Regions from separate parts of the Homo sapiens genome. Here region 2 is linked to region 1. Evidence: fine-mapped expression QTL. Tissue or cell type: whole blood. Region 1 holds a variant in brackets; the other region holds the start of a gene. All regions are shown on one strand. Distances are between the middles of the regions.

Region 1 (5,150 bases):
GGACCCACTATAGTGACTTGTACACATTTGTCCAGGGAGATAACGACTGTGCCTAGAGGACTGGCAAGGCTTTGGTCTTTCACTAGAATATGTCCTCGGACCCACTGTAAACCCATTCCAGCATGTTTTGCTAAGGGCAGGATGTCCTGGAGCATGTACAGCAACAGACAGAATGACAGAACAGGACATAGGGAGCTATCTATTACCACTCATACTAACAGCATCTTGCTTGCCATTTGGCTTGACTTAATTTCTTTTGAGCTCTGTGCCTATCTGTGGGTTGGAGACAATTTGTGTTGTTGCTCCTTTGTGGAGCTTCTCCTCCCCCCGAGGAAGAAAGCATCATTTATATCCAGGACAGCTCTCCAGATTATTCTGGAGACAGCTCAAAAAACCTGTCTCCTCAGGGAGAATGCCTGACAAGGTCCTCTTCAGGGAAGGGCTTCTCAAATTTTACCATGCATAGGACACACCTGGAGGTCTTGTTAAAAAGGTCTTAACTCATTAGGACTGAGATGTCACCCAACATCCTGCCTTTCTAATAGGCCCTCTGGTGATGCTGATGGTCCAAGGATGACACTTAGTAGTGAGGCTTGCGGCACTGTACAGATGCTTATGGCAACAGGGTGGCTCAGGAAGGTTGAGCGTGGGAAGGAGCAGGATAGAGCAGAAATACTTTTCATATGAGACTATAGCCGCCCAGGCTCCCACATAGACTTTACAATGAGTCATGGGCACTATCCACCCAGACTCACACTTCCCATTAGAAAGTGCTCCCCGAGGATGTGCCTACGCTGAAGTCTCAAGAAGATCATGCCTTTCCCATAAGAAGCCCGGGGAAGAAGCTTATGACTTTCCAGCAGGGAAAGGCAGCGGCAAGCTGAATGCTCAGGTGGTTTTGCCTTTTCTCCCCATCAATGGCAAGTTGGAAGGTGGAGCTGGTGGCTTGTTCCACTCTGTTCAGCTCAGCTGGTGTTTATTGCCTATCTGCTCTGGGCCCAACACTGCTAAGTATATGGATCTCTGGTGAAGGGTGAAAAGTGGTCTCTGCTGTCCAGGGGCTTACTGTATGATTGGGACAAATAAACTGAACACTTACAAGCAATGAAAGAAAAACATGAGAGAGTAGGGATATAATTATGTGCTAAATTGAATATAATCAAGTGCCAAACCCATGACAGAAGCAGTAAGTGCTGTGAAAAGTCAGGGAGGGTTTGAATGTTGGCTTAGCTCCCTGAATCCAGAGTTACAGTTTCTAAATTGAGGGTTCTATTGTTTGACTTGCATTGGGTTTTAAAGATCTTGTGGATAGAGAATTGGGAGCTACTGGGTGGGGTGGGGAGAAAAAGCAGAGTCCAGCACAGAAACACAAGCCACTTGTTTTAGGTACTAAGAGCCCCACAGTGAATGCAAATCATACCCCCACCCACCACCCCAGACCTCCCCATCTCTCCAGTGAATGAAACATTTCTTTAAATGAAACCACCACTAGATAATGATATCAATGCTACACTGTGCTGGGTTTGACTGGACACTCTCATAGCTTGTAGGGGATTCAGCCTAAAGTGAGTTCTTTCCATAGAAGGTGAATAATAATGAGGCTTAAAGGGAAAGGCCATCTCAGGATCTCAGGGCAGATACTTTTTAGTTTGTGGATGAGACAGACAAAAGAAGAAGGGGCTGGGAAGGGCCCTCGAAGGCAGAGAGGGAATTCTTATCTTTCATTTTGTCCATGAAAGCCCTGTGGAAGAACAATGCCATTCAGCACTTATACAGCACTGTAAACTCTTTCGTAAACATCAGGCGGCAAAGTCACATGCTCCTCCTGGACAATGAATGTACATTGGTCTCCTCCTGTTTCTGAGAATGATGATGGGCACACTAGCAGGAAACACTGGTGCATCCCTTGCCCTGCCCAACTGGGAGTACAGGCTAATCTCAGCATGGCCAAATCTATCAGGCAGCTCAGCTGTCTCATGTGTGAACCAAGCACCAGTCCTCCACAGCCCCCAGCGGAAGAAACATATATGAAATTTTCTAATGTTTCCCATGGGAAATCCCTCTCCCAACTAGGATTGAAGGAAAGGGTGGCACCTCACCTCCTTCCTGCTGGTGGGATCAGGATACTCACTCTCAGCTCCCTTCAAAGAGGTCCTCATATACCCTCTTCTTTTGCACCGTGACTGAATATCCTTTTCTGGACTAGTGGCCCTGAAATCATGGGACCCCTTGTTGAACAGCTCCTTTGTGGAGTATGTTTCATGCTCATGTTGGTATCTGAGACTGATTGTGGGGTTGCCTCAGGCTAGACAGAGGCAGGAGGAGTGCTCCTGAAGCATTGGCTCACAC[C/T]AGCAGCTGTTTTCCATAGATGGAAAAACGCTGATAGGAAACTGCCAAAATCCACCTGCAGGCTGTGCTTGAAAGAAATCCTTTGCATTTGCTGATCTCACTTTTTCTATCAGTAGCATGTGGAGCCCCAGCAGTCCCCAGGTGGGATTCCTGGGCCAATTTTAGCCCACACAGGCATTTTCTTTAGCTGGCCTTGTGGCTTGTAAAAATCTGAATTACTTCTTCACATTTTTAAATGACTGTAGTTCCCTGTAAAAATCTGGGTTTCTGGTTTCTCTTGAAAAACTGTGAGGGATCTGGCAACCCAGGCCATGCTCCTGCTTGGGCCAGTTGATCTGAAACAGAGGTACCCCTGCACGCTGCTTGTTCCTGCACCCATGTGCTCTCCCAGCCCAGCCTCTGTGAGCATTTGGCTCTTTGACCTTGAAGAGTCACAAGAACAGCCTGCATTTACTTCATCTTGATTTGATGGATGATGTTCCTCAGGTAGGCAAGGAGTCAAGGTAGGGTGGGGCAGGGGTAATTTGGGAAAAGTAGAATCCTGATTTTAGGATAGCTTAGAAATGATCTAAAGGCAGATAAATAATGTATGTGCTTCTCAGATCATCTGTGGAGAAGGAGCAGTTTGTTAGTTGCTTTCCAATCCATCCCAGATCTGTGCTTTTGTAAAATGCAATATGCACTAATTCCTACAAAAAAGGGATAGAAGACATATGACATAGAAGGCAGATTTTATTATTAGATTTTATAGACACAAAATTCATTTTAACAAACATGATCAGAATAAGCATAGGAAAAAGAAAATATTTAAAAACATGGTGCATTTGATGTATACAAATATAATGTAACTATAGAGGATCACTTTCGTACTAATAGCCCTTTTTCTCTCTGCAATTATAAACTAAGGAAACTATGAGTAAAATAGGAATATATCATGTTAAATACCCATAGACATACTTTTAATGAACACAATGTATATCAATATTTAAGGTTCTTTTTTTAAAATTATACTTTAAGTTCTAGGGTACATGTGCACAATGTGCAGGTTTGTTACCTATGTATACATGTGCCATGTTGGTGTGCTGTACCCATTAACTCGTCATTGGCATTAGGTATATCTCCTAATGCTATCCCTCCCCCTTCCCCTCACCCAGTGACAGGCCCCGGTGTGTCATGTTCCCCTTCCTGTGTCCAGGTGTTCTCGTTGTTCATTTCCCACCTATGAGTGAGAACATGCGGCGTTTGGTTTTTTGTCCTTGCGATAGTTTGCTGAGAATGATGGTTTCCAGCTTCATCCATGTCCCTACAAAGCACGTGAACTCATCATTTTTTATGACTGCATAGTATTCCATGGTGTATATGTGCCACATTTTCTTAATCCAGTCTATCACTGATGGACATTTGGGTTGGTTCCAAGTCTTTGCTATTGTGAATAGTGGCGCAATAAACATACGTGTGCATGTGTCTTTATAGCAGTATGATTTATAATCCTTTGGGTATATACCCAGTAATGGGATGGTTGGGTCAAATGGTATTTCTAGTTCTAGATCTTCGAGGAATCGCCACACTGTCTACCACAATGGTTGAACCAATGCAATGTATAAGCATGCTTCTCGCTTGTCGGTTGTTGTAGCATAGCTGGAGTGGCAATGACACCACTCATTTCCTGTTTCTGTTTCGTTCAGTAACATTTAGAGTAGCTTGAGTACAGTCTCACAGAGTTACCTTGATATGAAAGAGAATAAATACCAAAGTAACTTCAGTAAACTCAGGATATTCATTTTTAACTTTTTGTAGAAATGAAGCAAGTGATTCAGTATTTGCAAAACTCACCTTTGATCCTTCACCAGTAGCATATTTGAACAATTTATCCTTTAAAGTTAAAATTAACTTTACTTTTAATGAAAGAAAGGGATTTTGGATTTATGAATTTCCTATTTGTAAAATATTCTTATGATGAAAAGTTAAATTTAAAACTTTCTACAAAATTTCTAAGGTATAGGGCAATATCCTGGCAGATGTAAAATATTCTTATGATGGAAAGTTGCATTTAAAACTTTCTACAGAATTTCTAAGATATAGGGCAATATCCTGGCAGATGTAAAATATTCTTATAATGGAAAGTTAAATTTAAAACTGTTTACAAAATTTCTAAGGTATAGGGAAATATCCTGGCAGGTATATAATTTCAAGATCATCACCTACTTCATTATTATTTATTATTAACTTACGGGACTTTCAGCACTCTTTAGAAACTCTGTTTGTCCAGGCTTCTAGCTTTTTGCACTTTAATCTTATCTGCCATTGAAAACATGTCACATTCTTTATTTGCATGGAAGTATTAAGATCTTTAAAAAAGATCAACGTTACCAAAGAAATAAGCATGACAGACTGTCTAATTCATATCTTTGGAATGTTGGGGCTTGTTTCTTATCTTGTCTGGAACACAATAGGGTTGTTGAATAGTTCATATATTACTGATAAAACCTTTCTCCTTGATAACTCATATCCCAGTAGTTGTGTATAAGCAGCTTCCATATCATTACAAATAAAAAGAGTAATATCAAATTTAGTGCATTAGCTTGTAGGTAATTTACAATTGCACTAAATACACCTTTTAGTCCTGCTAACATTTTTGTTTTGTAACAAGACTTTCTTGATAAGGAAGCAATTCATTGATTTATATTGTGGTGTAGCAATTCCAGAATGCTTTTCTGCTATTGTAGCTATGCCATCTGAACATAATCCCAAAATTTAAACTCTAGGTCACATTCGTTGATTATTCCATCATGGTTCTATGT
Region 2 (5,150 bases), 310 kb before region 1:
CCCCTGTGGGCAGAGGACACACATTACTTGTAGAATGCAGAGCGGGGTGGGGATGGGGTTGGGGGAGACTGTCTGTATGCTAGGAAAAGCATACAATAGATGTTCTAAAAGCTTCAAAGAGCTGTCTTAAGATCACTATGTCAAAATAACACAGCAACATTAATCGCCAAACAACTTCAAAATCTTAATTGTGACTTCTGCCAAGTCTTGAGTATTTTACAAAGAATTCAGTTATCAGCCTACTTGGGTACACAGGAAATGGAATCTGATCCTAAGCCTAGAGGATATAATGACACTTTCCAGTGTCAAAGAGTTAAATGTGGGAGTTCAAAGCCACCGTTGCAAAGATCTAGAAGTTAAGGCACAGATGAAGCTGTAACAGCAACAACTAACTGCTATTTTAACCTTTTATGTGAGACCAGCTGCATCCCCATGAGGAATCCAATAGCAAAGTGGTACTGATTCTGCCCATAGAAAGTATCCATTTCAAACAAGATTAAAATTGGGGGAATGCATTTGAAATAAGCTCTTTTCTTAAGAGCCTAAGGAGTATCTAAGGCTTGAACAGGCTGACTGCTAAAGGAAAACCATTTCTTGTTTCCTTGAGTAGTTTTCAAAGTGTGCTTCCCAGACCACCGGCATCAGCATCACCTGGTACTTGTTAGAGTTGCAGTTTTACAGAATCCCAGACTCTGGGGCTGGGGTGCAGCAGGGTGAGCTTTCACAAGCCCTCCAGGTGATGCTCATGCTGCCTAAAATCTGAGAACTGCTGCGTTAGTTTACAGACAGGATTTCCTGTAGCCCTCCTGGCAGGTCACCTGTCTAGCAGATGATCCCACGGAGCAGGGCTCAGAGAAGAAGCCTCACCTGGAAATTGTCATTGACGCCCCCCTTTGCGATGCGGAGTCTGGCGATGCTGGCCAGGTCTCTGGTGAAGACGCTTTGGATGGGGACGTCCAACTCAGCATTCTCCATCTTTTCACAGTCGATGTACAGCTGGGCCCTGTCTTCCTGCACAAACAGGGTGATGCTCTTCCACTGGCCGGTTGCCAGGAGAGCTTCTTCCACAGACACCACGTGCTGCTTTCCTTGGACGGTCAGGCTGAGGTCCAGGGTGCCCGCCTTGCCATTGGACACCACGCTGAAGACCTGGCCAGAGTGGTCTTTCCGCTCCAGGGCCAGCAGCGTGCCCCGGGTCTTCTTCATCTGCCTCAGGGATGCCAGAAGGAGGAAACCCTTTTCTGCCCGCACAGCATCCACCAGGTCTTGGAACTTGTCATCAGGCACAGGGGGGATCAGGTTGGCATCCTCGATGCGGAAAGCTGGGCTGGAAGGGTCGGGGCCCTTCACCAGTCGGCGCCCAGACCCCTTGCGGGCGGCCCCGGTGAGTTCAAAGATGTCAAACACGCTGTTGTCTCCGCCAGACTCTGTTAGACAGGAGAGAACACAAAGTGAGCTTTCTAGGCTGGGACCAGCAGTAGGGGGCTGAGTCCTTAGGGGTGGAGACAAAGGGTTGGGGTGAAAACTCCTGGCAACCACTGAAAGAGGTGAATAAATACCAGGATCAGAGTGAAGCTGCGTCCTGATGTCCAGTCAGGCTCAAGAGGGAGAGGACAGCACGTGAGGGGGCACACCTGGGATAGCCAGCACCTCTTCCTTGTCCCTCCTTCCCCTAAAGGTGCCACACAAACTCACCTGGAATGCGGTTGGTGCCACACACATGCATCAGGAACAGGACGCCTAGTCCCCAGGCCAGCCCCATGGTGGAGCTGTTGGTGCCCAGCAGGGATCCTGTAGCAGGAAGCACAAGAGCCGAGGGTCAGAGATCAGCTAGGCAGGGAGGGACGGTGCGCAGAAACGGGGCTGGGCATGGGGACAGGGCCGGGACCATCCCTCTTTGACCCCGCGTTTGCTGAAATGAAGGACAACAGGATTACTTTCCAGAGAGCATGAGAGAGAGAGAGAGAGAGAGAGAGAGAGGTGGAGGAAAGAGATGCTGGTTTTAAAGTGTGGGGGGCGCAAGACCAACAATTTGGGGGCTTTTGGGAAGTCGAAGGTGAGCAAGATCAGGAACTGTAGTTTGGGGTTGCAGGGAGGGCAGGGGAAGTACAGACTCTTCCCTGGAGTGCTGATACAAAGGCTTAAGGAGGACTTCAGAGAGTAAGGAAATCTTGGGGTGTCCTGATGAGTTGGTTTGTGAACCTCAAGGCTGGAGAGGATGGCTCTGGAGCCTTGCCCTGAAGAGTCCTCCAGCGGCTGAGAGGAGCGGGCTGGGGTAGGCGAGCGGGGAGAGTGTAGGTTCCGGGGTCCACCAGAGGGACTGAAGCCTCAGCGCTCCAGGTGGATGTCCCGGGCAGCTTTGGTCCTCGGCGGCCGCCGGGGGCGACTTACCTGTGTGTACCGGAGCGCGGCGGCCGGGAGCGGTGGCGAGGGCGGCGAGGGCTGGAGGGGCGCGGGGAATGCCTGTGCGTCCGGAGTAGAGGTTGCTCCTGGAGAGCGACAGGAGCCCTGAACTCGCAGGCCAGCTCGGGCGCAGCGGCTGGCAAGGCGGAGGAGCCGCGCGCTTTTAAAGGGGCGCTCGCATTCCTGGGGATTCCTCCGGCCAATGGGCGGCGGCCGGGCAGGAAGCGGGAGGTGGGGGCCAGTCTGGGCTCCTCTCTCCGCCCCCCGCTGCCTGGCGCGCAACTTTCCAGCTAGAAAGTGAAGGGGGCGGGGGTCGGGGCTTGGGAGCACTAGAACTTCTCAGAAAAGTCGGTGCCCGCCCACGCAGCCTTGGCGCGCACGGGCTCGGCGCTCGTACTCTTGCGCCACGCGGGCTCGGGGTGATCAGCAAGCATCCCGAAAAGGGACGGGGCTGGGGAGACCACCTAGGAGGGCCCGCGGGGTGGCGCAGGGGCTTTCGGGCGAGCTGATCTCCCGGAATGCCTGGTTGATGGCGAGAGGTGGATACTAGAGACTGGGCCCGTTTTGTAAAAAGAAAAATGGGCCGACGGGGCGCAGGGGACACCAAGAGAGCCATTCGTTAAAGTACCTGCCCCTCGGGCCCTCGCTGACTCTCCTCCACCGTCCCCGTGGGGTGAGGACACGCGTCCCCCGAGCGCCTGTCCTGAGCTGGCCCCACGCCCGCCCCGGAGGGAGGTGAGCGCGGCGTCGGCGGGGCCGGCAGGTTGGTGCGCCGCGTTCGCCTTCGCTGCCTTCGGGCCCTTTCCTGCCGCGGCTGCCAGGGGGCCCACAGAGACGCCTCTCCCGCTGCCGCGGCGCTCCCTCGGCCGGCCGCTTGGGGGCGGTGTGCGTATTCTCATCAAGGGGCCCGGGGAGGACAGCTGCTTTCTACTCGAATTTTAAGGAAACTTACTCGTATCCAGTTTCCACAAGCCAAATTGAAATTGTGTCTTGAAAAACAGTTTTTGTGCCCACTCGTGCTTCTTAACGTGACTCCTGTTTGGAGAATTTGCAGAACCATCTGGCTCCAGAGTCTTCAGCTATTTACAGAGCAGACCCATAGAGTAATAAATTACTCTCTGCCTATTATTGTATTTCCCTTTTTCCTCCCTAAACGTTCTTTTCATTTTTCGGCTCCTGAACCCGAGGTGTGGGTTACATTTCTGTGGGTGCACACATTGCCATGAGTGCCGCTGCCTAGTGCTTCTGTCATTGAAGTCTGGTCTCCAAGCCACTGTCCCAAGCCAGCATGACTCTAGCTTCCTGGAATTCCATTCATCTCTTCGGGATGGGACGTCAGCCGCCTCGCTCCCTCTGCTGTGATCCAGCGCTATCGGGCTCGCTCCGAGGCCAGGGCATAGGTAGAAGCTTGACCAAATAAGGATCTCAGCACGGGCAGGGGGAAACCCCTGGGGTTCACCTCCCATCTTAGCACTTAAACCTGGCAGGACTCCCGACTGCTGCAAACAGCCAAGTGTTTACATTCATCAAACAGCAGTTTCGCTTTTCTTGCGTGGGAGTGTTGTATGACAAGATGGTGTGTGTGTGTGTGTGTGTGTGTGTGTATTACGGAAAGAGTGTTTTCTAGTTACTCAATATGTATATAAAATGCCTCTAAAAGATGACCGGTATGTTCCTAAGGCACATGTTTGTTGGATTTCAGATGTTGGGAGGCAGAAAGAAAAGTTTCTACTGGTTGATGAATAAAATCAGATTCTTGTCCCGCAAATCATAGGTAATGATTCATCCAAGCAGATCTGAAGATTCTGGAATCGGCACCCATCCATCTCCCTCCCCTTCCTTCTCCTTCTACAGCATTCATCTTGCTCTTCGAAAAGTAATTGGGTTTTTTTTTTCTTCTTTCCACTTGCTCCATGATACTGGACAGTCAGAAATAGTTCTTGGAGGGATGGGCCGCTCATGGCTCTGGGCTCCTCTGGCCCACTGGATCATTGTGTACAAATCAGATGGGGGCTTGAGGGCTGCAAGAGGCCCACAAAAGCAGAATGCATCTTGTATGAAAAGATTATCTCCCCTAGGCTTAGCTGTGCAGACAGAGTAGAAACCAGCACTCACTGCCCCTTCAGGATTCATGCTGCCATGGCTGAGGGATTGTAGGAATGCCTCTGCAGATTTCTTGGAACTTGGCTTCTTTCAACAAAACAAGGACAACAGTTTCCAAACTTCATCATGCTTTACCAATAAGAAGGTGACCTATACGGTGGCAGGAAAGAGCTTTCTTATTAGAGAAAGCTGACAGGTATAGGAGCTGCTTATCTCAAACACAAAGCCCTTCCTCTTATCATGATACTTCAGTTGTTCTGGGTGGAAAGGAAAGGTCATAGAAGAGGGAGTGTCTGCGCCCCTTAACAGGAATTCACCCACATTCTTGCCAGCCAACATGTGCTGCAAATATTCCCCAAACCTCATATACCTCTGTGCAGCTTTGAGAGAAGCAGGGATGGGAAAAGGGAAAAGAAAACCTATCCCCTTTAATGTGAGGGCAATAGTCCATTTTGAGTGTGTCTCTACAACCTGGAAGCACTGTGATTTTAAGGCAATCAATTAACATGGGCCGAAGTGATGGACCTTTCAGGGAGCTGGTCCAGTTCTCTTTTTTGCCAAGTTGTCATCCTTGAGGATTAGTTACTGAAAATTGTAAGGCATATGGCATTTCACCGTAGGATTTCCTTTTTCTAAGTTTCTCT

The links. PIP is the estimated chance that this variant, and not a neighbour inherited with it, causes the effect.
Region 2: THBS1 starts here. The variant in region 1 is fine-mapped to the expression of THBS1 in whole blood (INTERVAL, PIP above 0.99).

Annotation. Positions count from the first base shown.
Region 1 is chr15:39,266,720-39,271,869 of GRCh38, reverse strand. The region is part of intron 1 of LOC105370777 (a long non-coding RNA gene); the gene reads left to right. Among named protein-coding and RNA genes, the nearest start is that of LINC02915, 19 kb to the right of the region's middle. The variant C/T (reference allele first, on the strand shown) is at 2,350.
Region 2 is chr15:39,578,470-39,583,619 of GRCh38, reverse strand. It overlaps THBS1 (thrombospondin 1), which reads right to left and starts at 2,541. Exons shown (of 22, transcript NM_003246.4): 1 at 2,392-2,541; 2 at 1,696-1,791; 3 at 868-1,427; 4 at 1-3. The coding sequence starts at 1,762. It overlaps LOC124903470, which reads right to left and starts at 3,813. Exons shown (of 1, transcript XM_047433405.1): 1 at 2,626-3,813. The coding sequence starts at 3,302. The coding sequence ends at 2,868. RefSeq lists silencers at 3,001-3,050, 3,061-3,290 and an enhancer at 2,713-3,450.